Linked DNA regions of Homo sapiens: regions 2, 3, 4, 5 and 6 are each linked to region 1. The links come from fine-mapping of genetic effects on gene expression. A gene starts in region 1. Each other region holds a variant in brackets. All regions are shown on one strand. Distances are between the middles of the regions.

Evidence for each region. PIP is the estimated chance that this variant, and not a neighbour inherited with it, causes the effect. A credible set is the group of variants that fine-mapping cannot tell apart.
Region 2: its variant is the best candidate, but not a certain one, in a credible set for the expression of MLKL in whole blood (INTERVAL, PIP 0.68).
Region 3: its variant is the best candidate, but not a certain one, in a credible set for the expression of MLKL in whole blood (TOPMed, PIP 0.85).
Region 4: its variant is the best candidate, but not a certain one, in a credible set for the expression of MLKL in macrophages after interferon gamma (Alasoo 2018, PIP 0.67).
Region 5: its variant is the best candidate, but not a certain one, in a credible set for the expression of MLKL in monocytes after interferon gamma (Fairfax 2014, PIP 0.90).
Region 6: its variant is the best candidate, but not a certain one, in a credible set for the expression of MLKL in whole blood (TOPMed, PIP 0.61).

The regions. Positions count from the first base shown.
Region 1 is chr16:74,698,182-74,703,121 of GRCh38, reverse strand. MLKL (mixed lineage kinase domain like pseudokinase) reads left to right here and starts at 2,260. Exons shown (of 11, transcript NM_152649.4): 1 at 2,260-2,669. RefSeq lists an enhancer at 2,357-2,806.
Region 2 is chr16:74,431,134-74,436,073 of GRCh38, reverse strand. LOC107984827 (a long non-coding RNA gene) reads right to left here. Exons shown (of 3, transcript XR_001752253.3): 2 at 1,466-1,631; 3 at 502-904. Among named protein-coding and RNA genes, the nearest start is that of CLEC18B, 12 kb to the right of the region's middle. RefSeq lists an enhancer at 4,312-4,865. The variant AG/G (reference allele first, on the strand shown) is at 2,744.
Region 3 is chr16:74,668,786-74,673,290 of GRCh38, reverse strand. MLKL (mixed lineage kinase domain like pseudokinase) reads left to right here. Exons shown (of 11, transcript NM_152649.4): 11 at 753-1,436. The coding sequence ends at 787. It also overlaps the pseudogene TMPOP2. Among named protein-coding and RNA genes, the nearest start is that of RFWD3, 4.2 kb to the right of the region's middle. The variant C/T (reference allele first, on the strand shown) is at 1,893.
Region 4 is chr16:74,402,014-74,406,953 of GRCh38, reverse strand. It overlaps LOC105376772 (a long non-coding RNA gene), which reads left to right. Exons shown (of 2, transcript NR_135170.1): 2 at 255-665. Among named protein-coding and RNA genes, the nearest start is that of CLEC18B, 17 kb to the left of the region's middle. The variant A/G (reference allele first, on the strand shown) is at 2,490.
Region 5 is chr16:74,675,616-74,680,555 of GRCh38, reverse strand. MLKL (mixed lineage kinase domain like pseudokinase) reads left to right here. Exons shown (of 11, transcript NM_152649.4): 7 at 1,576-1,657; 8 at 4,792-4,940. Among named protein-coding and RNA genes, the nearest start is that of RFWD3, 11 kb to the right of the region's middle. The variant A/G (reference allele first, on the strand shown) is at 2,490.
Region 6 is chr16:74,533,779-74,538,718 of GRCh38, reverse strand. All of the region lies in intron 1 of GLG1 (golgi glycoprotein 1), which reads left to right. Among named protein-coding and RNA genes, the nearest start is that of GLG1, 71 kb to the left of the region's middle. The variant C/T (reference allele first, on the strand shown) is at 2,567.

The DNA.
Region 1 (4,940 bases):
CTCTCTGCTTTCTTCTAAAAGGTTCCTTGTTTTACATTTTACATTTAAATCTCTGATCCATTCAGGCAATTTTTGCATAGAATATGAGGTTTAGGTGAAGTTCATTTTTTTGTTCAGTTACTCCACCACCATTTGAACACCACCTATCTGGCAAAGGATTAATATCTAGAATATTTAAACTCTCAAAACTCAAGTTTTTTAAAAAGAATTCAACTAAAAATGGGCAAAAGACATGGACAGACATTTCACCAATGAGGCTATACAGATGGCAAACAAGCACATGAAAACATGTCCATCATCACCAGGCACTAAAGAAATGCCAATTAAAACCATGATGAGACCAGGCGCAGTGGCTCATGCCTATAATCCCAGCACTTTGGGAGGCCAAGGTGGGTGGATCACCTGAGGTCAGGAGTTCGAGACCAGTCTGGCCAATATGGCGAAACGCTGTCTCTACTAAAAATACAAAAAATAGACAGGTGTGGTGGTGCACGCCTGTAGTCCCAGCTACTTGGGAGGCTGAGGCTGGAGAATCGCTTGAACCCAGGAGGTGGAGGTTGCAGTGAGCTGAGATGGCGCCACTGCACTCCAGCCTGGGCAACAGAGTAAGACTCTATCTCAAAACAAAACAAAACAAAAAACCATGATGATATATCACTATTCACCTGTTAGAATAGCTAAAAATTCAGGCAGGGACAAAATAAAATGCTGCTGAGGATGCAGAGAAACTGAATGTCTTGTACATTGATGGTGGGACAGTAAAAAAAAAAAAAAAGAAAAGAAAAGAAAAAAACTTCCAAAAGGTTATACATTGTATGATTTTGTTTATAGCAGATCAGTATACCCATCCTGCAGCTGCTATGAGTGTTGACAGCTAAACACTCACACAGCTTCCCCCTCGTCCAGAAGAATTGCCCTGGGCAGAAAGGAGGCTGCCTCTTGTTCCAGACCTTCACATTCCAGACCTCCCCATGGAGCCTCCACTGACTACATACTTGTTTCACTTTTTCTTCCTCTGCCCTATCATACCCACCACTCTCCTAAGAGTCTTCCTTCAATAAATCACAGGCACCTGTGTTACTTGTTGAAGGTGTCCAGGTTCTTGGCATCTTGAACAAAGAAATGGGCAAAATGCACAAAGCAAGGAAAGAATGAGGCAACAAAAGCAGAGATGTATTGAAAACAAAGGTACACTCCACAGGGTGGGAGCCAGCGTGAGCATAGGGGCTCAAGAACTCCGTTACAGAATTTTCTGGGATTTAAATACCCTCTAGAGGCTCCCATTGGTTAATTGGTGTACACCCTATGTAAATGAAGAAGATGAAGTGAAGTTGCTCAGTCACTTACTCAGTGAACGCCATATGTAAATGAAGAAAATATTTCCTGTCATAGCTGAAATGTGTCCATTTTATTTAGTTCTAAGAAGTCAGCGTGAATCAGCTTTATGTTCCCTGCCTGCAGACCCTATTCTCCTGCCTCACCTCAATCTCTTCACCTAAGACAGGAAGAAAACTGATGATGCAGGAGACGAAGAACAATAGCAAGGCGAAGAAATGAATCTCCAAGGCCGGCTTCAAGCGATTCTCCCCTCTCAGGCTCCCGAGTAGCTGGGATTACAGGCATGCACCACCACGCCTGGCTAATTTTTGTATTTTTAGTAGAGACAGGGTTTCCCCATGTTGGCCAGGATGGTCTTGAACTCCTGACCTCAGGTGATCTGGCCACCTCCGCCTCCCAAAGTGCTGGAATTACAGGCATGAGCCACCACACCCAGCTCCCAGTTCTGTTCTTTTAGAGGCAAATAGTCTGTTGAGTAAATGCATAACACTACTTAGACTTTCTAGCTGAAGATGTAGTTAATCTTAAGAAAACCTGACTCACACTGTAACAGGATGTTCTGCAATGACCTTAGAAGAGGAAGTGACTTTTTTCCCACTTTGGTGTCTCTTCCCTCGTACCCTCCCCACCCCGCCAATATTATCCAGCACAGAGAAGCAAACACCAGAAGCTTCTCTCCAACTTTCAGTTTTTCTCTAAACTTCCAGTCCTTCTCATACTGTGTCCTGGTTATAATAGTTGCTGGGACCTTATTCTATTCTGAATCCCCAGCCCCTAAAGAAGGCTTGGTACTGACGTGTACAGCGTAGTTACCCAGTGACTTTGGGGAAGGCAGGAAGAGTGTGGAAAGGACAGGAGGAAGGAAGGGAGGGGCCGTGGCTCCGAGCTGCCTAGAAAGCGGCTCCAGGGAGCCAGGGCACCGTGAGCCTGGTGGTTGGCAGCTGGAGCCACGTCGGAGGGGGAAGTGTCGCAGCATTCTCTGCAGGCATCACAGACCTGAGGCAGTGGCCTCCGGAGGGCACTGGACAGAAACAGCCATCCAAGTGGCTGAGTGGAGGGACCCTGCTCAAGTGCAGCTGCAGTGGCCGGGGTTTCCCTCAGGTAGGGATCGGGGCGCCTTGTCGCCGCCAGCCACGTGTGGCGTCCGGTACAGTCAGCAGAGTGCAGGGTGCGGGCACCAGGAAAGGGGGCGCAGGGGAACTCCCGCGGGCCTCGCGTTTGCAAACTTCTCGCCTGGGCAGGAGGCGGTCGTGGGAAAGAAGGTGGAAGAGCGAGCTTTTTGGAACTGTGCACGGGACAGATTGGACGCACACCCCTCGGGAGGCGCGAAGGTGAGCATGGGGTCTTCCCAGGAGGCGGCGGGGCCGAGGGGCTGCAGCCGAATTCCTGGACGGTGATGGGAAGAACCAGGGGTGAGGGTGGCCCGGTCCGAGTTCCTGGAACTCAGGACCGAGTTGGTTTCATTTCCTCAGCTCTGATGGTGGAGCTGCCTGCTCGGATCTCGCACTACCTTCCGCCAAAGCGAGACGCCCAGTAGCAGTGGGGGTCGTGGAGGGCAGGGGCACGGGAACAAGTTACCTGATGTCTTCTCAGAAAAAGGAAGTCTTCAGGTTTGCAGGCTGAAGGCGTGAGAGAGAGACAGAGTGAGAGAGAGAGAAGAGGGAAATGCCTGATAACCTTTACTTATTTTATTTTATTTTTATTTTTTATTTTTTGGAGGGAAGAGGTGAATTTGCATTGTTATTACCATTTAAAGATTTTTCACTTTTAAAATTAGTAACCTGTTTTCTCATCGTAACATATGAACATAATCCCCTTTTTCTTTTTATTTATTTATTTTGAGAGATGGAGTCTTCCTCTGTTGCCCAGGCTGGAGCGCAGTGGCACAATCATAGCTCACTGCAGCCTCCGAACTCATGGGCTCAAGTGATCCTCCAACCAGATCCTCCCAAGTAGCTAGGACTACAAGGTGCACATCACCACACCCAATTAAATTTTTTTTGTATTTTTTGGTAGAGCCAGGGTCTCGCTTTGTCACCCAGGCTGGTCTCAAACTCCTGGGCTCAGGTGATCCTCCTACCTCACCCTCCCAAAGTGCTGGGATTACAGGTGTGAGCCACTGCAGCTGGCCTGAACATATTCTTAGCTGTTTGTTTTACATATTATAAATAGCACTGCAGTGAACATCTCGGTAGCCATCTATCTACAAACACAAGCTTTTCTACATCATAAGTTCCTAGAAATTCAAATTGCCCAGTCTAAGTGTGTATATATGTATATTCCCTTTCTTCCCTTGTAGATCATATACTTAATAAGACCTTAAACAATTTAAGTTATTGTAGGGTGCTTTTTCCCAATATTTTGCAGTTTTTAATATATTTTAATTTCATACAGGCAAGTCCCCTTTTCTTTATTTTTTAAAATCCTGGTTATCCCTACTAATTTCCCATTTCAAATGAACTTTAGGATCATTTTGATTTAATGCCAAAATATGTCAGTAGATGTTTTATTGGAACTGCATTAAATTGGATTTAAATTTGGGAAGGATTGCTGGGTTGGTCTGTTTTAGTCTTCCCAGCCAGAAATATAACACTTCTCTTTCCTCCTTTCTTCAAGCTTTGTTTTGTGCAATTTTCTTTCTTTCTTTTTTTTTGTTTTTGTTTTTGTTTTTGAGACGGAGTTTTGCTCTGTTGCCCAGGTTGGAGCACAGTGGTGTGATCTCGGCTCAGTGCAACCTCCACCTCCCGGGTTCAAGCAATTCTCCTGCCTCAGCCTCCCGAGTAGCTGGGATTACAGGCGCCTGCTACCATGCTTGGCTAATTTTAGTATTTTTAGTAGAGATGGGGTTTCACCATGTTGGCCGGGCGATCTCAAACTCCCGACCTCAGGTGATCCACCTGCCTCGGCCTTCCAAAGCGCTGAGATTACAGGCATGAGCCAATGTGACCGCTGCAATTTTCTTCATACCATGCCACCACTGTATAATTTATTATTTGAAATTGTTTGTCAGTTCTATGGGTGGGATATTTTCCCCATTTTCCTTTCTGATTAGTTCAGTGCTGAGATATGGCTTTCTGATGAGGCTGCTGGTAAGATAACTGGAGCTTAGAGCTAGGAAGCTACAATTTGCAAGATTCCTTGAACAACATTGCCACATTTGCTTCTGTTTCTGGTGCAACAGAGAAAGTGTAAAACCTTTTGCCCTCACAATTCCCAAGAAATGGCCTTGAAGATATCTGCTTAGCACGTGGGAATAGCTGGGTAGTCTGAGATCCACTAGTCTTTTTAGGAGTGCCCTAATAACTGTTACCTCCCTTGCCCAATCACTGTAACTCTCAGGCAACAAAAACACAACTATATCGATTGCTCATTTATTTAGTTTCACTTCTGCCAGTGCCTTACTCATGTTTTAAAGCCATACTTGGGCTCCAGGCCAATTATTTTCTCCAAGCTGCTAATTAATCCATAAACTGGCGATAATACTTAACCTACCTATTTCACTGAGCTGTTAAAAAAAAAAAAACTAACTTTGTTTTTTGTTGTCGTTTGTTAGTGGTGGTGGTGGTGGTGTTTTTGAGACACTGTCTCATTCTGTTGCCCAT
Region 2 (4,940 bases), 270 kb after region 1:
AGAATTGCTTGAACCCAGGAGGTGGAGGTTGCAAGTGAGCCGAGATCATGCCACTGTACTCCAGCCTGGGTGACAGAGTGAGACTCCATCTCATAAATAAATAAATATACTCAATAAGCCCCAAACAAAATAAATTTGAAGAGAACTATGCCTAAGCACCTCATGATCAAACTATTAAAAATGCAAAATAGTCTGGGCGCAGTGGCTCACACCTGTAATCCCAGCACTTTGGGAGACCGAGGCTGGTGGATCACCTGAGGTCAGGAGTTCAAGACCATCCTGGCCAAGATGGTGAAACCCTGTCTCTACTAAAAATACAAAACTTAGCCAGGCATGGTGGCAGGTGCCTGTAATCCTAGCTACTAGGGAGGCTGAGGCCAGAGAATTGCTTGAGCCCAAGAGGCAGAGGTTGCAGTGAGCCAAGATCTCAGCACTGCATTCCAGCCTGGGTGACAGAGCGAGACTCTGTCTCAAAAAAAAAAAAAAAAAAAGCAAACTGAGAAAATCTTGAAAACAGAGAAAACAACAAATTTAAGGCAGACAAGGATTTGAATGACTTGGACTTCTCATCAGAAATCATAGAGGCCAGTAGAACATCATTAGGGGTTGAAAGAAAAGAACTGTCAGCTCAAAATTCTATATCCACCAAATATATCATTCAAGAATGAAGGTGAAATTAAGACGTTTTCAGTTAAAGGAAAACTAACAGAAATGTAATTAGAGTATGTGGTATGCCTCAAGTAGTGATATTTGCATAATTAAAACAATGTAAACAATGAATATTGATTGAACCCCAGAAGGAAAAAACAATCAAATTTAAAGGATGGGTGGCAAGAGGGGCGATGAGTGTCTGTGTGGTCTGAAAGCAAAATCATCTTCCTAGTTAGTGGAGAATATCTGAAACCTGAAAACCAATAAAATAACAGTATGAGCATGAATTAATAGTTAATTACCATAAGAAAGAGCTCTAAGAGTTGAGAGTTATTACTCCTGAGGATTGAGAATTGCAAGGGTTTGGTGAGTCAGGGAGCTGCTGTTCATCATTATAAGCTTTGTAGTATTACTTGACTTCAAACTAGTATTTATATATCTGATAAAAATTAAATTCTAGCGGCCGGGCACAGTGGCTCACGCCTGTAATCCCAGCACTTTGGGAGGCTGAGGCAGGGGGATCACGAGGTCAGGAGATAGAGACCATCCTGGCTAACACGGTGAAACCCCATCTCTATTAAAACTGCAAAAAATTAGCAGGGTGTGGTGGCATGCACCTGTAGTCCCAGCTACTCATGAAGCTGAGGCAGGAGAATTGCTTGAACCCGGGAGGCAGAGGTTGTGGTGAGCCAAGATTACGCCACTGCACTCCAGCCTGGGCAACAGAGTGAGACTCCGTCTCAAAAAAATAATAATAAAAATAAATTCTAAAAATTAGCCACAAAAAGGTAGTGCCTTTAAGAAAAACACTAACCTGGTCCTATGTGAGTCAGCAGCCTTATTGGGTTGGATGGTCAGATGGGAGAACTAAGTTGCCCAAGGCTGGGCTGCTTCTCTGGAGAGCCCCTGTCATGGTTTCTCTCGGTGTCCCCATCCAAATCGCATCTCTAATTGTAATCCCCAGGTGTCGAGGGAGGGACCTGTAAGGAAGGGAAGGGAAATCATTGGATCATGGGGGCGGTTTCCCCCATGCTGTTCTTGTGATATGAGTGAGTTCTCACAAGATCTGATGGTTTTATAAAGCAGTTTTCCCTGCTCTGGCCGCCTTTTGCCTGCCACCATGTAAGATGTGCCTGCTTCCCCTTCCACCATGATTGTAAGTTTCCTGAGGCCTCCCCAGCCATACGGAACTGTGAGTCAATTAAACCTCTTTCATTTATAAACTGGTGCTGAGGGGTTCTGGGGCTGGAGGTTGCAGAAGGCTGCAGGCTGCACCCTGTCTACCTCTCTCGTTCTCTTGGCTCCTGACTGGATGAGTAGCTGCAGCTGGAGATCTGGAAGCCTGCCTGGAGGAGGAAAGCATGGCCTGGCTAGGCAAAGAGGATTTCACATCTGGGATGAGGTGTTGTACCAGATCATATGAAGAGAGTCTGTGCCTTATTTTATTACCTGAAGAATAGCGTTAACCCTTACTCCAAAGAGGATGGGGACCAGGCATTTATAAAGCATTTTGAGAAGAAAAAGTGGAGCCTGGAACAAGCAGTGTGTTGTGAGGCGCAGAGCTCTGGCACTAAGTGGACCTGGAGAGGAGAGGTCCTTTTCCTTGCCCGAGTCCTCACTTGCTGACGCTAGGATTTCTCCCTCCCATGATTCCACTAAGCTTTGGCTTAAAAGCTGTCAGGTAGTGGCTGGGTGCAGTGGCTCATGCCTATAATCCTAGCACTTTGGGAGGATGGCTTGAAGCCAGGAGTTCAAGACCAGCCTGAGCAACATAGTGAGACCTTGTCTCTACAAAAATTGAAAAGGAGCCAGGCACAGTGGCTCACGCCTGTAATCCCAGCACTTTGGGAGGCCAAGGCCAGTGGATCACCTGAGGTCAAGTGTTCGAGACCAGCCTGGCCAACATGGTGAAACCCTGTCTCTACTAAAAATACAAAAATTAGCTGGGCGTGGTGGTGCATGCCTGTAATCCCAGCTACTCGGGGGGCTGAGGCAAGAGAATCACATGAACCCGGGAGGCAGAGGTTGCAGTGAAGCAAGATTGCACCACTGCACTCCAGCCTGGGCAAAAGAGCAAGACTGTCTAAAAAAA[AG/G]AAAAGAAAAGAAATTAGCCAGGTGTGGTGTTGCACACCTGTAGTGTCAGCTACTCAAGAGGCTGGGGTGGGAGTGAGGCAGGATAGGTAGTTAAGGAAATGACCATGTTCTGGGAACGCAGCAAGCGTGGTGACTGTACAATCAACACAATAAGCCTCAGCATTCACATTGTAATCGAGCTCATTCAAGCAAAGCTGTCTTCAGTAGGCGATTGCCCCTGTAGAGAGCATGCACATTTTGATTTCACCTGTCCTCAAACCGACACACTGCTCATTTTAATAGTAAAAAATACACCCCTGGGTGGAGATTTAAGATGCTAAAGATGCCAGGTGCGGTGGCTCACACCTGTAATCCCAGCACTTTGGGAGGCCAAGGAGGGCAGGCCACTTGAGGTTGGAGTTCGAGACCAGCCTGGCTCTGCTAAAAGTACAAAAATTAGCCAGGGGTAGTGGCACGTGCTTGTAATCCCAGCTACTCAGGAAGCCGAGTCAGGAGAATTGCTTGAACTTGGGAAGTGGAGGTTGCAGTGAGCTGAGATCGCACTACTGCACTCCAGCCTCGGCGACAGAGTGAGATTCTGTCTCAAAAAAAAAAAAAGATGCTAAAGAGACATGCGATGTATAAACAAGCATGTACAACTACTGCACATGTGCACCAAGAAGACCACCCAGACCATGCCTACTAGTAACGCCTCTTCCCACCCACTTACGAATAATCATGAAAGGCTTCCAGAAAGGGAGCCTCCCTAGCGCCAGTCTTTGCTGTCTCATCCTTACGAATGCTGTTTCTCAGTGCACTGTCTATTCCATACTTAACTTTTTTTTTTTTTTTTTTTTTGAGATGCAGTCTTGCTCTGTTGGCCAGGCTGGAGTGCAGTGGCACGATCTCGGCTGACTGCAACCTCCGCCTCCTGTGTTCAAGCAATACTTCTGCCTCAGCCTCCCAAGTAGCTGGGACTACAGGCGCTTGCCACCATGCCCGGCTAATTTTTGTATTTTTAGTAGAGACGGCATTTCACCATATTGGCCAGGCTGGTCTCGAACTCCTGACCTTGTGATCCACCCGCCTCGGCCTCCCAAAGTGCTGGGATTACAGGCGTGAGCCACCATGCCCAGCCTATATATAGTTAACTTTCAAAATACTCTTTTCTTTACAGTAAATGACTCTATGCTGCACTTCTTTTGCTGTGTGTCTCTTGTTTAAATTCTTTTAAACCAAGAAGACAAGAACCAAGGCCTCACAATAGCTGTCAACAGGAGGGTCACTCCAGCCCAGGGGTCGAGGCTGCAGTGAGCTGTGATTGTGTCACTGCACTCCAGCCTGGGAGATAGAGTGAGATGCTGTTTTAAAAAAAACAAAAAAACAAAAAACTGCCCGGTAAAGGAGAATGTGGAATGGGTCACAAGTATGGGCTCTCCTCTCTGGATGAGACTCTAGCCAGCCTTCCCCATGTCTGCACCCTTTTCTGTGGCCAGCCGTCCTGGCCACCTTTGCTCTGCAAGGCTGGCAGCAGTTGGTCCCCGTGCAGATGGGCTGTGGAAGACTGGGCACAAAGCTTTCCTGTGAGGCTGCTGAAAGGTTCTAACCCAGACGATAGGTGCAGAGGTTGGGTGTTCAAACTGGTCACACAGTGGAGAGGTTCTGGAGCACAGCAGCAGAGTGGGCCAGCCAGTCTGAGGAGGAAATGAAGCACAAACTTCGAGCTACATGCAGGGCCCGGAAGATGCTGGAAAGCATAGGGCCCATGCTAGCCAATATCCCCAGGGGCCAGGAGGAGAGCTGCTCACATAGGATATGCACCCAGGGGCATGTCCTGGGCATGCAAAGATACCTCCCTGCAATCAGACCATTGCACCAACTCCCAGGCTGCATCCTAGAGGAAGTCTACACTAAGCCCACATAATTAGTAAACAGACACAAGGAGCTCGGTTAGAAGACATCAGTGCCAATGGCACTTGTGGACTCCAGCCCAGCGTTCATCACAAGCAACTGACCAACACACCTGGGCCTGGGTTATTTGCTTCTCGAGCTGAATGTTTCTGGGCCTCCTTGGGTCATTTCATTTTGCTCATCTCCAGTCATCTGTCACAACCTGGAAATCCAAGGGGATAGGCCATGCAGTTTGTCTTGCAAGAGTAATTTAAAAAGTAGGCTGGGTGCAGTGGCTCACACCTGTAATCCCAGCACTTTGGGAG
Region 3 (4,505 bases), 30 kb after region 1:
AGCCAAGATCGCGCCACTGTACTCCAGCCTGGGTGACAGAGCAAGACTCTGTCTCAAAAGAGAAAGAAAGAAAAGAAGAAGGAACTAAAGAGCCATGAGTCCAGACTTTTGAGGCAGCTTCCAAGGATGTTCTGTCTGCTTACAGAAGTCTTGAGCATGAGGACTGTTCTTCAAGGCCTTCTCACAGATGGTCTGTTGGGAAAACCTCTCACACTACCTGAGAGGGTCTCATCTGTCATCTCTCCTCTCCCTTCATCCACATCCCTACCTTTCAGAATGAAGAATCAAAGTCACGGCATAGTTTCTGTCTGAAACTTTCTCTTCACCACCACAGAGCAGAAGCGCAGACTTAATGATGTGTTCTGAAAAATTGGTCTTTGGGGTGGATGAGAAGCCAACAGTGATTTATACAATGCTGTCCTCCACTACACTCTCTCCTCTGTCTTCTTTCTTCTTCTACCAAGCTCCCTTACAACCTAGGGTCCTCCTAGTATTAAGGAATCTAACACCAGAGAGTAATTCATACTAAGATGTGAGTTTACCCCCTCCTGTGAGGTGTTTGTGTTTTAAAAGTTGATCAAGTAAGAGAACTTTATATCCCAAATGTGTGAGTGCTGATGGTGGTTCAGGCACCAGCCAGACCAGGGGGAATGCAGTTTCTAAATGACTGTGCAATGTAGAAATGTCTTTGTGTTTCTAACTTGGCTCTCAGCTGCCTACCCTGGTCTAATTTTCTGTTCATTCATCCACAGAAATCTTAAAGAAACTCTCCACCTTTTCTAAGTAGTGTATCAAAATCTAAACCAAGGAGTCTCTGGACAAGAAGCTGGGAGAGGCACAAACTGGACATCTCTCTCTCTCATATCCTTCGGCATTGGGTTATCTATGGGTGCAAGGAGTGGGCACGCTTCTCTGTTACAAATAGAAAACGATTCCAGTCATACAGGACACATCCCACTCCAAATGATATTTCCAAAAACATACCTCTGACAGTAACTTTGATAGATGGTTTGTCAAATGTATCTTTCTGGGTATCCACACCTCTTGGCAATGAAATTTGCAGCTCCTCCCTTCCATAAATGAAGTCTCTTTCCCCACCATTTGAATCTGGGCTGGCACTGTGACTTGATTTGATCAATAGAATGTGGAAGAAGTGACTGTATGCCAGTTCCAAGCCTAGGTTTCAAGAGGCCTTATAAATGTCTGTTGGAACCTTACCCAGCCATGAACATGTTGAGTGAGCATGCTGGAGAATGAGAGACCACATGAAGCAGAAACATGCTTTCCTAGCTGAAGTCATACTAGCCCAACCAACATGGCAGCTAACACATGAATGAGGCCAATCAAGACCAGAAGAACCACTCAAGCAGATCCCAGCCCAAATTGCCCATTCACACAATCAGGAGCTAAATAAATTACTGTTGTCTTAACACTAAGTTTTGTGGTGGTTTTTTACACAACAGAAGTAACTAGGCAGAAACTGTTCAATTCTTCCTCTTGCCCAAGGAATCAAGTACAAACTTCCTATTTGGATATCCATAGCCTTATGGATATCCCCCATACCATACTTTCCAACCTGACTTTCCAATCAGATGCCAGAGTTCTCCTACCAGAGATTGCAAACTCTAATACCCATAGGGCCTAGGAAGGAAACTAAATGAATGATTTGAACCTGGAGGGGGCTTCAGTGGGCAGATGAGCAAGAACAGCGTCTCCTCAACTCCAGTCTATACTTTGTCACATAGAATGGGATCCCAACATTTCTAGAGCTTTCCATTTTGTCAAAAGAGCTAGAAAGTTGGATTTTTCTGTGATGTCCTTATTTTTAAAGGTCAGTATCTCATTAAAAATTATTTTAGGCTGGGCACGGTGACTCATGCCTGAAATCCCAG[C/T]GCTTTGGGAGGCCCAGGCGGGAGGATCATCTGAGGTCAGGAGTTCGAGACCAGCCTTGCCAACATGGTGAAGCCCTGTTTCTACTAAAAATACAAAAATTAGCTGGGTGTGGCTGCCACATGCCTGTAATCCCAGCTACTCGGGAGGCTGAGGCATGAGAATCGTTTGAACCTGGGAGGCGGAGGTTGCAGTGAGGCATGATTGCACCACTGCACTCCAGCCTGAGTGACAGAGTGAGACCCTGTCTCAAAAAAAAAATTATTTTAATGCTGATAAGACAAACAAAATATGTCCACATAGGAGCTGCCAGATTTTAATCCCTGCCAGACTCAAACCCATGTTTGTGGTGCTTTCATTCTAGATTTCTTTTTTTAAGACGGAGTCTTGCTCTGTCACGCCCAGGCTGGAGTGCAGTGGTGCAATCTTGGCTCACTGGAACCTCTGCCTCCTGGGTTCAAGCGATTCTCCTGCCTCAGCCTCCTAAGTAGTTGGGATTACAGGTGCTCACCATCACACCCGGCTAACTTTTTGTATTTTTTAGTAGAGATGGGGGTTTCACCATGTTGGTCAGGCTGGTCTCGAACTCCTGACCTCAGGTGATCCACCCGCCTCGGCCTCCTGAAGTGCTGGGATTACAGGTGTGAGCCACCGCGCCCGGCCTAGAGTTTCACTCTTGTTGGCCAGGCTGGAGTGCAGTGGCGCAATCTCGGCTCACTGCAACCTCCGCCTTGCAGGTTCAAGCGATTCTCCTGTCTCAGCCTCCCAAGTGTCTGGGATTACAGGTGTGTGCCACCACACCTGGCTAATTTTTGTATTTTTAGTAGAGACAGCATTTCACCATGTTGGTCAGGCTGGTCTCGAACTCCTGACCTCAAGTGATCTGCCCACCTCGGCCTCCCAAAGTGCTGGGGTTACAGACATGAGCCACCACACCTGGTCTCATTTTAGATCTTATACCTTTGTTCATGGTGTGTGCTTTGCCTAGGATACACTAATCCCTGTCTTTAAAGTTACATTTTTTTCAGAACTCATTCTAAATCATTCAACAGCAAATGTGCTGTCCATTGTTTCAATCACTGAGAAGACAGCAATAAAAATACATTTGGGTCTTGTATTCTAGTAATCATCTCTGGTGAAGAAAATTATGGCTGATTTCTATTACTATTATTATTATTATTATGAGACAGGGTTTCACTGTGTTGCCTAGGCTAGTCTTGAACTTCTGGGCGCAAGTGATACTCCCACCTTGGCCTCCCAAAGTGCTGGGATTACAGGCATAAGCCACCACACTCGGCCTTATGTTTTTATCTTTTACTTATCCTTGATTTTTTTAAAACCTAGAACATGGTTTTTTTCTATAAATAAAAAATGCAGAAGAATATAAACTTAATATGATTATTTTGTAGAACTTACTGGCAGGTATTACTATTTTACTATTTTCCTTCCTTCCTTTTTTCTTTTTTCTTTTTTTTCAGAGGCAGGGTCTGCTGGTCTGGAACTCCTGACCTCAAGGGATCCGCCCACCTTGTCCTCCCAAAGTGCTGGGATTACAGGCATGAGCCACCATGCCCAGCCACTGTTTTCATCTTTAAAATCATTTGTTCTATTTACTGTAGGAGTTACAGTGAAAATTCTCCCTGGTAGATGAATTATTCATACTCTGGCAGACCCACAATTATTATAGGTGAATTTACTATAAGCCTGATAAAGCTTAATCTTCAGGGCCTTTTACTTGCACAGGATGCCTTCCAAGGCCCTGTACCTGATTTTTCCCAACACTTATGTATGAAAATTTCCAGATACACAGAAAAGTCAGTACAATTGTACTCTGAACAACCATATACCTACCACCTAAATTCTACAACTAACAATTTATTATATTTGTTTTATCACATACCTATTTATCTGCTTGTGCCTCTTTCTAGCCATTAATTCATCCTGATTTTTTATGCACTTCATTCCTAAACACTTCAGCATTTATGCCATTAACTGGAGTTTATCTCTCTATGAGCTTTTTTTTGGCGGGGGGGTGGGAAGGTAAGTTTTTGCTGTGAAAAATTTGTGTGAAATGCACAAATCTTAAAGATAGCATTTGATGAGTTTTGACAAATGCATACATATGAGTAATCCAAACTCTATCAAGATCATGAACATTATGGCCGGGCGCGGTGGCTCACGCCTATAATCCCAGCACTTTGGGAGGCCAAGGCGGGTGGATCACCTGAGGTCAGGAGTTCAGGACCAGCCTGGCCAACATAGTGAAACCCCACCGCTACTAAAAATACAAAAATTAGGTGGGCGTAGTGGCACGTGCCTGTGATCCCAGCTACTCAGGAGGCTGAGGCAGGAGAATCACTTGAACCCAGGAGGTGGAGGTTGCAGTGAGCCGAAATCATGCCATTGCACTCCAGCCTGGGCAACAGAGCGAGACCCTGTCTAAAAAAAAAAAAGTTCTAGAGCTAAAAAAGATTATTCATATGGCACAAAGTGATCTCCTACTAGTCCAAAGTTCAAAAACATTTTAATAAAGTCCATTCATATATCTTTTGTTTGCTTTCCAATGGAATACTACGTTTATTGAGGCAAAATCACATTATTTTTAGTTCTTGGAG
Region 4 (4,940 bases), 300 kb after region 1:
AGAAACTGGGGCGCCTCCAGTCACCGCCGCGGTCCGCCCCGCCCGAGGCTTTGACCCCCTGAATCAGCGTCGGGGCAGGGATCCGCGTGGGGTGGAAGAGGCTGGGAAACTGGGGAGTCCCGGGCCTCCTCTGGAGCCGCCCGCCCTTGGCTGGCTGGTCCTTCTCTTCCTCGGCTCCCGCCGGGCTGGGCCCTGGGCCGCCCTCACTCCCTCCCCTCTGCAGCCTCCCTTGCGTTTGTCATTCACTCTGCCAGGCTCTCCTTCTGCCTCCGCATGCCCAACGATCCGGAGAAAAACACGGACCATGACATCAAAAGGCCTTGGCCAAGGAATCGTGATTATTGTGATACAAGATTCTGCACCTCAAAGGGGATCCCTGTAGTGAGTTTTGGAAAACGTACAAAGCCTGACTTACAATATGCCTGTTATCTGTGGCGTTTCATCTGGGGAACTTACTTTTCCTTGATAGGGTAAACTATTCTCATCCAGAGTATGTCCCTCAGTCTGTAAAAGTCCATGGTGCCCTACATCTATTAGGGGAGTGAGGAAGGGCAGTGGGCATTGGATCTGCTTCTTTGAAAGCCCCCACCTGTGTTTAGCTTCTGTTAGAGGCCTTTGAACCAGAGCAACTCCATCTTGAGTAGGCGCTGGGTAAAATCAGGCTGAGACCTACTGGGCTGTGTTCCCAGGTGGTGGAGGCATTCTAAGTCACAGGATGAGATGAGAGGCCGGCACAAGCAGTAAAGAAGCCGCGGCCAAAACCCACCAAAACCAAGATGGTGATGCGAATGACCTCTGGTCGTCCTCACTGCTACACTCCCACCAGCGCCAAGACAGCTTACAAATGCCATGGCAACGCCAGAATGTTACCCTATATGGTCTAAAAAGGGGAGGCATGAATAATCCACCCCTTCTTTAGCATATAATCAATAAATAACCATAAAAATGAGCAACCAGCAGCCCTCGGGGCTGCTCTATGGAGTAGCCATTGTTTTATTTCTTTACTTTTTTTTTTTTTTTGAGAGGGAGTCTTGCTCTTGCTCAGGCTGGAGTGCAGTGGCGTGATCTCGGCTCACTGCAATCTCCGTCTCCTGGGTTCAAGCGATTCTCCTGCCTCAGCTTTCGAGTGGCTGGGACTACAGGTGCCCCCACCATGCCGGCTTTTTTTTTTTTTGTACTTTTAATAGAGACGGGGTTTCACCACGATGGCCAGGGTGGTCTCGAACTCCTGTCCTCAGATGATCTGCCTGCCTTGGCCTCCCAAAGTGCTGGGATTATATGCGTGAGCCACCGCGCCCAGCCCTATTCCTTTACTTTTTTTTTTTGAGGTGGAGTCTCACACCTGGCCTCCAATATGTTTATTCATATTGCTGAGGCAGGGGATTGCTTGAGCCCAAGAGTTTGAGGTTGCAGTGAACCATGATCATAAGCTGTATTTCAGCGTGAGTGAGAGATTGAGACCTTGTCTCACAAAATAAAAGTTAAAAAGCCCTTATCTGGAGGTGAGAAAGCCAAATACAAAGGTCTTCTCAGTTGGTTCCCAGTCTTCCCAGTCCAGCAGCCTCAGCATCACCAGGGAGCTGGTTAGGCAAATTCTCGGCGGCCCCAACCTACTGAATTGGAGACCCTGAAGATGGGGCTATCTGAATTTTAACAAGGCCTCCAGGTTTGCATGCTCAAGATTGAGAACCACTGGCAAAAGCAAACAATTTGAATCTGAAGTCAGCCCACCTGCATTTGAATACAGGCCCTGCCACTTAATAACTGTGATTTAGAGCAAGTTAGTTACTTAACAGCTAGGTTGACCAATTGTCCGAGTTTGCCTGGCACTATCCTGATTTCAGCACTGAAAGTACTACATTATCGCTGTGGCTCACGCCTATAATCCCAGCTTCTCAAGCTGTCCCTGTGGAATCCTCAATATCGGTACATTCATCCCTATCTAGCATCCCCTTCCTCCCTCACCCATCCTGCACCCTCAGAATTCATTCTCAGATCACCTTCCCAGATTTTTGCCAATATCAATTAAAAAAATTTTTTAGCCAACCATGTACTGTGAGTAAGCCAATATCAATTAGCAAAATCTTTAGTTTCTTTTGGTGATTCAGTATCTTCCCCCTGGAGTTTTTTGATGATTCAGTACCCTCCTAGATTTGGCCCCTGGGGCCTGCGGGGATGTGACTTGTCATTTAATTCTGGAGAAAATGAGGGGTAGGGCTTATAAGGAGACTCCTTCGGGGCAGGGTCATTACAGGGTGTGTTACATAGGGAAATGCTAGCTGCTGGCTAGCTCTCGCTCTTGAAAGGCTCTTCCTCCCTCAACTGAAATGGGGAAGGGGGAACCCCGGCCGACTGAGGTCCTGACATCTTTAGCACATGGCTTCTTAGGTCACCCAGGGCATCCAGGTTACCAGCTTGGGAAACAGGAGATGTAGGTTGGAGGAAGAGGCTACAGCCCACCCTGGAAATAACTGCCATCCGTCCCACCC[A/G]TATGGTTAGGCTTTGTGTCCCCACCCAGATCTCATCTCGAATTACAATCCCCACGGGTTGAGGGATGGACCAGGTGGAGGTACTTGCATCATGGGGGCAGTTTCCCCCATGCTGTGCTCGTGACAGTGAGTGAGTTCTCACGAGATCTGATGGTTTTAAAGCGTGGCAGTTCCTCTTTCTCGTGCTTACATCCTCGTAACTATCCTGTGGAGAAGGTGTCTGCTTTCCCCTACCTCCATGGTTGTAAGTTTCCTGAAGCCTCCCCAGCCGTGTGGAACTGTGAGTCAATTAAACTTCTTTATAAGTTACCCAGTCTCGGTGTTTGCTTTTTTGAGATGGAGATTTGCTCTTGTTGCCCAGGTTGGAGTGCAATGGCGTGATCTCGGCTCTTTGCAACCTCTGCCTCTCGGGTTGAAGCTATTCTCCTGCCTCAGCCTCCCAAGTAGCTGGGATTACAGGCGTGAACCACCACACCCAGCTAGTTTTGTATTTTTAGTAGAGAGGGTGTTTCATTATGTTGGTCAGGCTGGTCTCGTGCTCCAAGCCTCAGGTGATCCGCCCACCTCGGCCTCCCAAAGTGCTGGGATTACAGGCATGAGCCACCGCACCCAACCTTGGATGTTTCTTTATAGCAGTGTAGAAACAGACTCAGCCGTCGCTGCAGGCCATACCTCAGCTACATAGAACACCTAACTGCCCGCAAGGGAGTTCCTGCTACTAGGATCTTCAGTGACAAAGAGGAAGCTTTGGCTGGCAAGGGTGGTGGGGAGGGGAGGGGCTAGGTACCTAAGGCTTCCCTATCTTTCCACACAGCCTAATTTTCATAGCCTCTGGTCTCCACATTTCACTCTTTCCCAAATAAAGACCTTTTAAGGTGTGGGTCCCCTTGGTCATTCTGTAACCATTGGATCAAGTTTTCAGTTTTTTCTGCTCTCTCAGCTGCAAAATAACACATTCGAGTTTTGGTTTTTTTTTTTTTTTTTGGAGACAAAGTCTCACTCTGTCGCCCAGGCTGGAGTGCAGTGGTGTGATCTCAGCTCACTGTAACCTCCGCCTCCTGGATATAAGCGATTCTCCTGCCTCAGCCTCCCAAGTACCTGGGATTACAGGCACCTGCCACCACACCTGGCTAATTTCTGTATTTTTAGTAGAGACGGGGTTTTGCCATTTTGGCCAGGCACACTCGGGTTTTCTAACCATACCTTGAGCCAAGAATTTGGATTCTGAGCTTGTCTTTTCATTTAAGCTATGTGGCGCTGTTAACATGACCGCCCTGCCCAGCAGATCTTGACTTCAGTGTAATCTTTATTCTCTTCTATGGCAGGAGCCATTAGGTCCCCCAAAGCCTTGCCTTTGATGGATACTTTGTTCCCGGGGACAATGGGATTAGCTGTCTTGCCAGGGCGTGCCATGGGGCTGCTGGTGTCCTGTCCCTTAATACCAGCTGGATTTTCACTGTCCTCTGGCCACTTTCCAGCCTTCAATTGCTCCTGTTTCCTTTGGGGCTTCTTGCTCTGTCCAGTCCTGGTCCTATTTTTGTGAGAATCAAGGTTCTTAGTTTTAACCAACAGAAACTAATTCTGGCAACTCTAAGCAGAAAGGGACTTGGTCAGAGGTCCTGGCTAGTTCCCAGGAGCTCAAAAGGGTCAGAAAATCAAATCAGGAAGAGGACATTGGGCAAAGCTGGCCAGGTGAAGACCCCACAGCCTCTGCTGGCACAGAAGCTACAATTGGCACCACCGAAGTGGGACAGAAGCTGCCACCTGTGCAAGCTAGATGTAGTCGCTGCCGCTGTCACCATCAATTTTTGAGATGATGCTTCTTCCTGCCTGCCACTTTAATTCAAAGCGAAGGCCAGGTGCAGTGGCTCATGCCTGTAATGCCAGCACTTTGGGAGGCCAAGGCAAGAGGATCGCTTGAGGACGGGAGTTTGAGATCAGCCTGGGCAACAGGGTGAGACCCCGTCTAGCCAAAAAATGCAAAAAAAAATAGCTGGGCAGAAAGAAAATGGCTCATGCCTGTAATCCCAGCACTTCAGGAGGCCGAGGTGGGTGGATCACCTGAGGTCAGAAGTTTGAGATTAGCCTGGCCAACACGGTGAAACACTGTCTCTACTAAAAATACAAAAAATTAGTCAGGTGTGGTGGCACACGCCTGTAATCCCAGCTACTCAGGAGACTGAGGTAGGAGAATCGCTTGAACCCGGGAGGTGGAGGTTGTAGTGAGCTGAGATCTCACCATTGCACTCCCCGCTGGGTGACAGAGCAAGACTAGTCTCAAAAAAAAAAAAATAGGGGCCAAGTCGATGGAAGGACAAGAATAAAGAAACTGAGGCCGGGTATGGTGGCTCACGCCTGTAATTCCAGCACTTTGGGAGTCCGAGGTGGGTGGATCACCTGAGGTCGGGAGTTCGAGACCAGCCTGACCAACACGGAGAAACCCTGTCTCTA
Region 5 (4,940 bases), 23 kb after region 1:
CAGCCTGGGCGACAGAGCGAGACTCCGTCTCATAAAAAAACAAAAAACAAAAAACAAAAACAAAAAAACAAAAAAAAAATACCAAACGCAGACTTTCTTCTTGATGTAATCAGAAAGACTGGAGCAAACTGAAAGGAGAGTAATTTTCCCTTTATATAATCTTGCATACCACCTTATCCCACACTTTTGGAAACACTGTCTTAGCTATTAATTTGAAATTAAGTTTGTTTCTTCTCAACTCCCTAAACTAGTGAGTTTAAGGAGAAGTATTTTTGGATGTTGTAGGGGACACTGTTAATATCCCCTCCAAATGACCTCTGATCCTTTTTACCAGCTCTATTTACCCATCCCCCTCTCGGCATGCTTTGCTGCTGAAAGTTCACAGCTGCAATCTTCAGAGGATTGCCTGTGGGCACTGGAGCCCTTTCACCCTTATAGACAGCTGAAAGTGCCCACGAGTTTTATATCCATCTGTCCCTGCCCTCCCCAACACAGTCCATAACCACTGACTGGTGTAAGTATAAAAGTCCAGTTCCTTTGCTTCCTGTGGGACACACTCTGAGGTGTAATTGTGCCCACAGGTCTCCGCGAGACCACCTGAGCCTGGGATTTCACCTGAAATCAACCTCTTGCTTGATTTCTTCTCCTTCGCCATCCTACTTCCTGTACTCCCTCAACCATTTCTCCTGGGAGCACCTTCTTTTTGTTTGTTTGGGGGACTTTTGGAGTTATTTTTTTTTTGAGACAGAGCCTCATTTTGCTGCCCAGGCTGGAGTATAGTGGCGTGATCTCGGCTCACTGCAAACTCCACCTCCTGGGTGCAAGTGATTCTCATGCTTTAGCATCCTGAATAGCTGGAATTACAGGCACATGCCACCACGCCCAGCTATTTTTTTGTATTTTTATTAATAGTAGAGATGATGTTTCACCATGTTGGCGAAGCTGGTCTCAAACTCCTGACCTCAAGTGATCCATCCACCTTGGTCTCCCAAAGTGTGGGGATTATAAGCGCAAGCCACCATGCCTGGTCAAGGGAGCACCTTCTTGATACAAATCCCTCGTGCCCAAATCATGGCTCATGATCTGCTTCTGGGAGAATCTGAGCTCAGGCAGACACCATGAGTGCAACCCAACCTGGGACGCAGGGGCTTTGTGAAACCAAAGCCCTTGTCTGGAAGTCAGCGGGACCCCAGCTTCACATTCTGCTTTGACCTGAAGGGTCCCAGCAAGGTCCAGCCACCCAGCCATGCCTCTGAGCTCTCGGATCTGCCCAGCACTTCCCAGGCAAAGCAACACAGAGGCAACGTTGTCCTTCTCTACCTAAAGGCACCCCTGATGCCCGATTGCATGCACTTCATAAGGGCTGTCATGCCCCCTTGTGCTATGAATCTCATCTCTGTTCTATACTCACGGCTTGTGATTCTCAAACCTTGCCTCTACATCCCAGTTTTTCCTGTGTAACTGTGGACAGGCACCCATGGTACTGTCCAGCCTCATCAGCCCAGTTATGATTGTCAGTCCCCCAAAGAAAGTTTGGGCAAAGGTACTTATGCTCCCCGCCTTTGGCTGTGTCAGGCTACACCATTCAGAAGCACCTGAACTCCACGGAAAAATCAGAAGCTCAAACTTCCTGGTAACTCAAGGCTACCAAGTGAAGGTGAGTGTGCCTTGCGGGGGCGCTTTGGGTCAAACCTGCATGACTGGTGCTATGAGAGGGGCACGAGTGTCTCAGAAAGGCTTGATTCTTGTCTTAGTTTATTTATTTATTTATTTAGAGACAGAGTCTCTTTCTGTCACCCAAGCTGGAGGGCAGTGAGCGAGATCGCCCCGCTGCAACCTCTGCTTCCCAGGTTCAAGCGATTCTCCTGCCTCAGCCTCCCAAGTAGCTGGGATTACAGCCATGCACCACCACTCCTGACTAATTTTTGCATTTTTAGTAGAGACAGGGTTTCACCATGTTGGCCAGCTGGTTTTGAACTCCTGGCCTCAAGTGATCCGCCCACCTGGGCCTCCCAAAGTGCTGGGATTACAGGCATGAGCCACCATGCCCGGCCTTGCCTTGGTTTTAGAACTGAGTTCAATTTTAGTTTTTTAGTTTCAGAACTAACTTCAACTTTCTGTGTGCCCACCACACAACAGTCTCCATCTATGCCGCCTGTTCTGATGACTGCCTTCCCTCACTGCCCATTTAGCAGGGATGGGCTACAAGTCATTTCCCCTTAGATGCCTGGACACCACTTCTATGTCCCTACAACATACAATGGGGGATCTTGTTAGGTTTAAGGACTCAGACTCACAGGACAGGTCTAGGCCACACTTGTCATTCAGTTACTTAGAAGGATGTCAGCAGCGCCAAACCTTTCCCTCCAGGGTGAGTCCTCGCAGTCATCCAGGAGATACTCTCTTTGTCAGAGCCACAGGTGCTGGAGAAAGAGGCTCCCATTAGGTGGGTGTGGGTCATCCAGGCTTAGAAGCCCATGACCTGCAGG[A/G]GTCAGCATCTCTGGTAACAACTCTGCAGGCATGCCTTCCAGTGTTTCTGCAAGTGACATGTGAGTTGCTGTTTTAAGAGCTGCCACATCTGGGTATGGTGGCTCACGCCTGTAATCCCAACACTTAGGGAGGCTAAGGCGGGTGGATCACCTGAGGTCAGGAGTTCAAGACTAGCCTGGCCAACATAGTGAAACACTGTCTCTACTAAAAATACAAAAAATTAGCCGGGTGTGGTGGCGCACGCCTCTAGTCCCAGCTCCTAAGGAGGCTGAGGCAGGAGAATCACTTGAACCCGGGAGGCAGAGGTTTGCAGTGAGCCGAGATCGCGTGGTTGAACTCCAGCCCGGGCAACAACAGCAAAACTCCATCTCCAAAAAAAAAGAAAAAAGAAAAGAAAAGAGCTGCTACATGGCCAGGCATGGTGGCTTATGCCTGTAATCCCCGCACTTTGGAAGGGAAGGCAGGAGGATCACTTTGAGCCCAAGAGTTCAAGACCAGCCTTGGCAACACAGTGAGACCTCCCCCTCTTCAAAAAATTTAAAAATCAGCCAGTCATGGTGGTGCACACCTGTAATTCCAGCTACTCAGGAGAGTGAGGCAGGAGGAGGATGCCTAGAGCCCAGGAGGTCAAGGCTGCAGGGAGCTATGTTTACGCCACTGTATACCCTAGCCTGGGCAACAGAATGAGACCCTGTCTCAAAAAATAAAAAAGAGGCTGGGCGCGGTGGCTCACACCTGTAATCCCAGCACTTTGGGAGGCCAAGGCAGGTGGATCATGAGGTTAGGAGATCGAGACCATCCTGGCTAACACAGTGAAACCCTGTCTCTACTAAACAATACAAAAAATTGGCCAGGCGTGGTGGCAGGTGCCTGTAGTCCCAGCTACTCCGGAGGCTGAGGCAGGAGAATGGCATGAACCCAGGAGGCAGAACTTGCAGTGAGCTGAGATTGCACCACTGCTCTCCAACCTGGGCGACAGAGTGAGACTCCGTCTCAAAAAATAAATAAATAAATAAATAAATAAGAAAAATTTGCTACAAAGCATTCCCATCAGCTGTTTACTGTGTAGTCCTGTTACCCCCTTGATCCTGCCCAGAAGCAATCTAACAATCAGCAGTCATTTTTATTTTCATCATCAGCAATGTTACTAAGAGCCATAGGTGACAGTCTACCTGTATCAGATTTCCAGGGGAACAGAGCTAAGAAGTTCACTGGAAGTCAGATTTTCATACAGAAGAGGAAAAGATTTTGTGAACTCAGTGTCCACAATTCCCAAATGCTAAAAGAATTTTAGCAGTTTTCTTTGTCATCCATAGACGGTTTTCTTTCTTCCAGTCCTACGAGTGTCAGAGACAGCCCTCAAATAATAGCAGACAGGCCTTTTTTGCCTTTCAGATGCCTTTCCCCCTCTGCGATGGTGATATAAGTACTCCCAAAACACTGTTTCTACTACTCTCACGCTCTTCATGCAGCCTGACTATAAGATGCGCTATTCCACCTTTCATCCCTGGTATCCCATACGGCGCTAGATGTAAGAGAATGTCAGTGCTCAGGAAACGTGTGAGCAAATGAATGAATGAATGAATGAAAGGGGGATGAGCCATCTAAGTGCCTTATCCCTTTTCTCACATTGCCCCTAGATTTGGGTACCTGGCTGAGTTTGGGGCTGGCAGCCTTCAGCACACCAATGGTGTCAATGGCAGGTGTGCATGGGACAAGAACATATGCTGTCATGATTGTGCTACAGTTTCTTTAAGAACACCAGGTGACCGCGCAGGCCTGGGGGGATGACTCACACTCGTCACGCCAAAGCCAAAGGATCAGGCTGACCCCCCATAAAGTCAGATAGCACAGAGGGGATGCCCCCATGCCATTTTTCCATCTGCTTCTTTGGGAAAAGGCGAGCCAGGCAGTGGCTCTATGACCCCTCTCCACTCTCACTGAGTGGAGTTCAGTCCTCAACTGAGAAACCCCTACATTTTAACATAGTCATACTGGCAACAACTACAACTTAGCAGGTCTTACTGGTGCTTTATAACCATTATCTCAAGTAATCCCCCCTGTCATCGCCCCATTTTATACAGAAGAAATCTCTTTGTGTTTCTCTTGGTCACTGCACTGTGATAAGTTGAACCCATAATGTTAACCAATAAAGTAGCCACACAGACAGAAGTCACGACAGGAAATAAATCCCTAAGGTAAAAGACAATTCCCTGGCAATTGTGTGTAGCAACAATCCCTGCCCTTTACTCCTCTACCCAAGATCTTGCTTGTTTCTTTCTAAGTTGCCTCTCTATCTAGCTTGCAGGATTTGAGTTGAGGAAAACACAGACTTCCATGAGTTTGGGAACTACGAGAGAAAAGACAGACAGAGTCAAATCTACAGCATATCTCTCACCTCAGGAACTGGAAGATGTATTTTATCAATATGATGTAAAGTCTGAAATATA
Region 6 (4,940 bases), 160 kb after region 1:
TCCCGTTGGACCTGTACAGTAACTCCTTTTTGAAAAGGTAGTTGAATGCTAAAGACTTAAATAAAAGCAGCTACAACTCTTTAGTGAATCAGAACATTGTTGGAAGGCATAAAGCCTGTGCTGATCACTGTCCTTTTGGAAAAACAATACTCAGCCACTATCCCTGGGTACAAATAAGAAAAATAAATTCTGATAGAGCCAGAATAAGGCACTAAGAGGAAAGCAGTTCTAAACCTGAGGATCGAGATTGCATTTAGACTTGCTCAGGAGAGTTTCCCGGGGGTAAAAGATTGGGTTTATTTTGTTAGAGACCAGCTACATTATCTTCATTGTCATTGGGGCTTTGGACAAGGTTAATAAATGAAGTGTTCGTGTGATGGGAAGTTACTGGGTTCTTAATGAATAAACTCCCAGAAGACTTGACTTAATACTGCAGCAGAGTGTCTCCAATTGAAAGGAGGCATTAGGTTATCGCGTGACTTCAAATTTTTCTAAGGCTGTAAAAGCACTGATACTGTTGGCATCTTTTGTTTGTTTTCTCCTGAGGGATTCAAAAACAAAGTTGGTTGTCACTTAATTTAGTACCAGTTATCTTAGAAAAAGGACCCTATTCCTTTATGTGATCTGATGTAGTTCAGCTTCAGTGGAAACTGTAGAATGTTCCATATTTTAGACAACATCCAACTCCCAAGCATTTCTGTTTCAGAAACTGGGACACCTTCCAAGATAGCTTTATGAATCCTTTAATTTCTCCTTCCAGACTCATTAACTCAGCCTGTTCACCTTGGGGAAATCATAGTTCCAGACTTTCTGTAAAAACCTTCCTCCTAAGTGAATGCGGTAGTTGATTTGAGAACATTCAGACTCAAGCTTTTCAGTAGTTTATTCTGAAACCTGTTTGTTGTGACTTTGACTAGGAGAGATTAAGGTGAAACAGTAGTAACCATCATAATATACAAATTATCTGCATTAAAAAAACTTGAAATTCAGTAAGTACATTTTTAAATTCCACATCTCAGATTTTATGGACTCATAAAGCTGGAAAGAACCGCAACCAATGTTTGACCAGTATTTCTTAATTTTTTCTTGTCTCGTGGATCTTTTTGAGATGGTGATAGCTGTTGTGGATATTCTTCTCAGAAAAATATACATACACACAAATGCTTGCGTTCAATTTCAGGATATCTCAGACTCCCAAAGCCTGTTCATGGATTCCCACTCTAGTTCAAAGCCTGTTGTTAGGGGTTTAGAGAAGTTAAGTGATGTACCTAAAGTCACACACTTCTATTGCTAACTACTATAGAAAAGTGGCAGGGTTCTTTTTTGTTTTCTGTTTTTTGTGAGGTTTTTTGTTTTGTTTTTTAACCATTTCCTGATACACTCATCATGTTCTTTATTGAAGTCAAGCAGGTGTCTCCAAGTACTTGGTGCTTTTCCCTTTACTGCCTTTGTTTGCTGTATCATTTATACAGCATTACCCAAGTTCCTTCTCTGTTTTAGTCACTGATGCATTGGGATGGGGATGTGCTAAATTCTCTTCATTTTCTCATTCTTCTGTTTATAATAGTTTACTTATTGATACTAATATATGCAATGTCAGGAATCATTTCTCTCATATTTGGTCATTAAATTAGCAGCTATTTATTATACTTTTCATAACTTTTTTTCTTACAGTTTTCCATAGTAAGAGGACAGTTTTATTTCCAATGAGTAAATACTTGATGTAAGAGATCCTTCTTTTTGAAGCCCAGACTTCTATCTCCAGATAAGGAGTAGCTGATAATGTGACATAGCTCAGCTTCTAATTTGATGCCTCCACAGGCTAGGAGCCAGCACTTTGCCCCTGGTTTGAAGAATGCAGGTAGAGGTAGGAATCTTAATGATGAGAAGAAGTTTTTTTCCTCTATCTTGGTCATGTTCTTCCTATCATTTGAAAAATCAGTAACCATTCCCCCAGTAGATACATACTCATAAAATATTAGTTACACCCATGTTATATGCATTATAAAAATACGTTAAAACATAAATTAAAGGATAAGCTTTTTTAAAAACAGAAGCTCTGTTATTTTCTTCCTGACCCCCAAGGGATCATGTAACTTCTTCCTTGAGGAATCACTCCACTCCTTTTTGGAGATCACTCTTCTAATTCTTTAGGCCTATCTCAAGTCCCTCCTCTTGCTTGTTTGATTTCGCTATTTTAACTGTATAACTGGATTGTAAACAACTTGAGATTAGAGACCAGATAGAATGTTGTCTTTGTATCCTGCAACAATGCCTAGCACAATTTTGAGTTCATCATCATTATTCAATATATACTTGTTGGCTAATTTCTTGGGATCATCTCAGAGCATTATTTCACTAATTATTACCAAAGAGGAAGAAAAAAAATCCTCAGTTTTATCTTATTTTAGTAATTATGGGTGTTATTCCTCATGCTATTCATCTTCTAGGATTAGAGACAAGTGAGCCTGTCTGCACTTAAAGTTTTGTGGAAATAGATGTACTATATCTGATGAAGTGGTTTAATTGGGACATAATGAGAATGGTGCAGTATGAGAACCAAACC[C/T]GAATCAGCACCTGCATCTGTTTTCGTTCCTTGAGATTTCTGTTCATTGGTTCTTTATCACATGACTGAGTGCTGAAGCATAGTGTTTTCTTTTTATTTATTTATTATTTTTATTTACTTTCTCGAGTTCATTTATTCTGACATTATTGATGCACCCACCATTCCCCGGGTAGTATAAAATACTCCTTTGTATTTTATATTTCGTTCTCTCTCTTCTCTTCCTCTAAATCACCACTGTGTTCTTGGATTCTAAAAACCCCTCTAAATTTCTGAAATTAATTGTCACAATTATGCTTAACAATTCTTCATAGCGATTTGGTTCCATGAATCTCAAAGACCTAACATCATAACCTTGTTTTTACGGCATTCCTATTCTGTCATCTTTTCTTTCTGCATAGAGAAACTAAACCTAGGAAAAAGCTGGGCATACTGGCTCATGCCTGCAGTCCCAGCACTTTGGGCAGGTGAGGCAGGAAGATCACTTGAGACCAGAAGTTGAGATCAGCCTAGGCAACATAGCGAGACCCGGTCTGTACAATAAAATTTTAAAAAATTAACCAGCTATCATGGCACATACCTTTAGTCTCAGCTACTAGGGAGGCTGAGGCAGGAGGATCAGTTAAGCCCAAGAGGTGGACGCTGTATTGAGCCATAATGGTGCCACTGCCCTTCAGCCTGGCAACAGAACAAGACTCTATCTCAAAACTAAATGAATGAATGAATGCAAAAATAAGACGCATTTATAGTCAGTTGCAAATCAAGATAGCAAAAGAGATGAAAAGCAAGCACTGGTGTCCAGATTTGCACTTTTGTGTCTCCATGGATTATGTCATTTCTTCATGAAAGGTACAGTAGTGCTCTGTGCTTTCCAATATAATTCACTAATTTTAGATCATAGCTGTTACAGGTTCTAATTTAAAGGCTTTGATATTTTTATTTTATTTGTTTGATAGATATATTAGTCATTTTTTCTTCATAACAGACACCCTCAAACTTTCATGGGCTTAACTCGAGGCTTGTTTTTCTTTCCCATGGGTTATTCGAGATGGCTTTGCTTCAGGCTACAGGTTGAGGGTTAAGTTCAGGTCTGCTCCACATGTCTCTTTTCTTTGTACTACCATGTTCTCATGGGGAATGGCAGGGGTGCAGGAATACAGGCCAAACTACCCAGGCACATTTAAATCCTCTGCTCATATTGTATCTCCTAAAACTCCATTGGCCTGAGCATGTCAGTGGCCTATATTATATTATGTTACATTAACAGTATTACTAAGCACACAGTACTGCACCTCTTAGGAAGGAATGACATCATCCATGGAGACTCAATTAACTGCAAATGTGGACTGCAGTGCTTGCTTTTCATCTCTTTTGCTATCTTGATTTGCTCAACGTCAGCGGAGCCGGGTGTATACTCAGTTTATAGCAGGAGGCGGTACAGACTTACAAAACAGAGGATCTGGATGTAAAATCCTATGCAAGTGAAAAATTGGGAGAAATAATCCAGTCTCCCGCTGTAGGGAAGCAAGTCATTAAAACAGTAATTAATTTGCTAATATAGTCCTGTGGACTCTAAACATGACAATACATTTCTTTCTATGGGGAGCTTACATCTTATTTGACATTATTTTGAAAATTCTCCAATGCTCTAAATTTCTTTCAAGAATGCACCTTTAATCCAAATTTGTTGTTTAGTAGAAATGAGTATAAGTAGAGAAGATTGTGATATTAATTGCCTTCCATCCCTTGTTTGAGAAAGAGCTAGAATTGCTAATTGATTGGGAAAACTTAAAGGATAGATTTTAAAAGGATAGTGTAGAAAACTGTCTAAGAAAAAGCATTCTTGTAAATAAACTATTAAGAGATATAAGTTAAACTTCAGATTGAGGTGGTGGGAACAGAGTTAAGCTAGGTCGACTCAGCATGGAGGCTGATTTCTGAGACTGAGAAAGGCACCTTAAAAAGGCATTAAAGTATCTGCTATTAGACAAGTAGGGAGAAAGTTCAAAAGTACTGTGTTATATAATAGAATCTTATGATTACCTAGCAACCTAATTAAAGTCAATTTTAATATATGTTGTAAGTATAAAAATGAGTTTGTATGTTGCTAATGCCTACTGAATTCTGCAGTGGAATTAATAATTCCATAGGGAAACCTTTTTCTTCTTGAAATAATGCTAGGTGTGGCTACTTGATGTGTTCTATTTTCTTTATTGCCTTTTCTTTATCCTTGGATAGAAAACATCTGTTTATTTTAAAACTAGCATGTTTTGCTACCTAAATTGATAATATTTAAGTTATAGGCACACAGAATTCACTTTATATAAACAGATTCGAATACTATGGAAACTCAAAATAAATTATGCTTTTTTTTTGA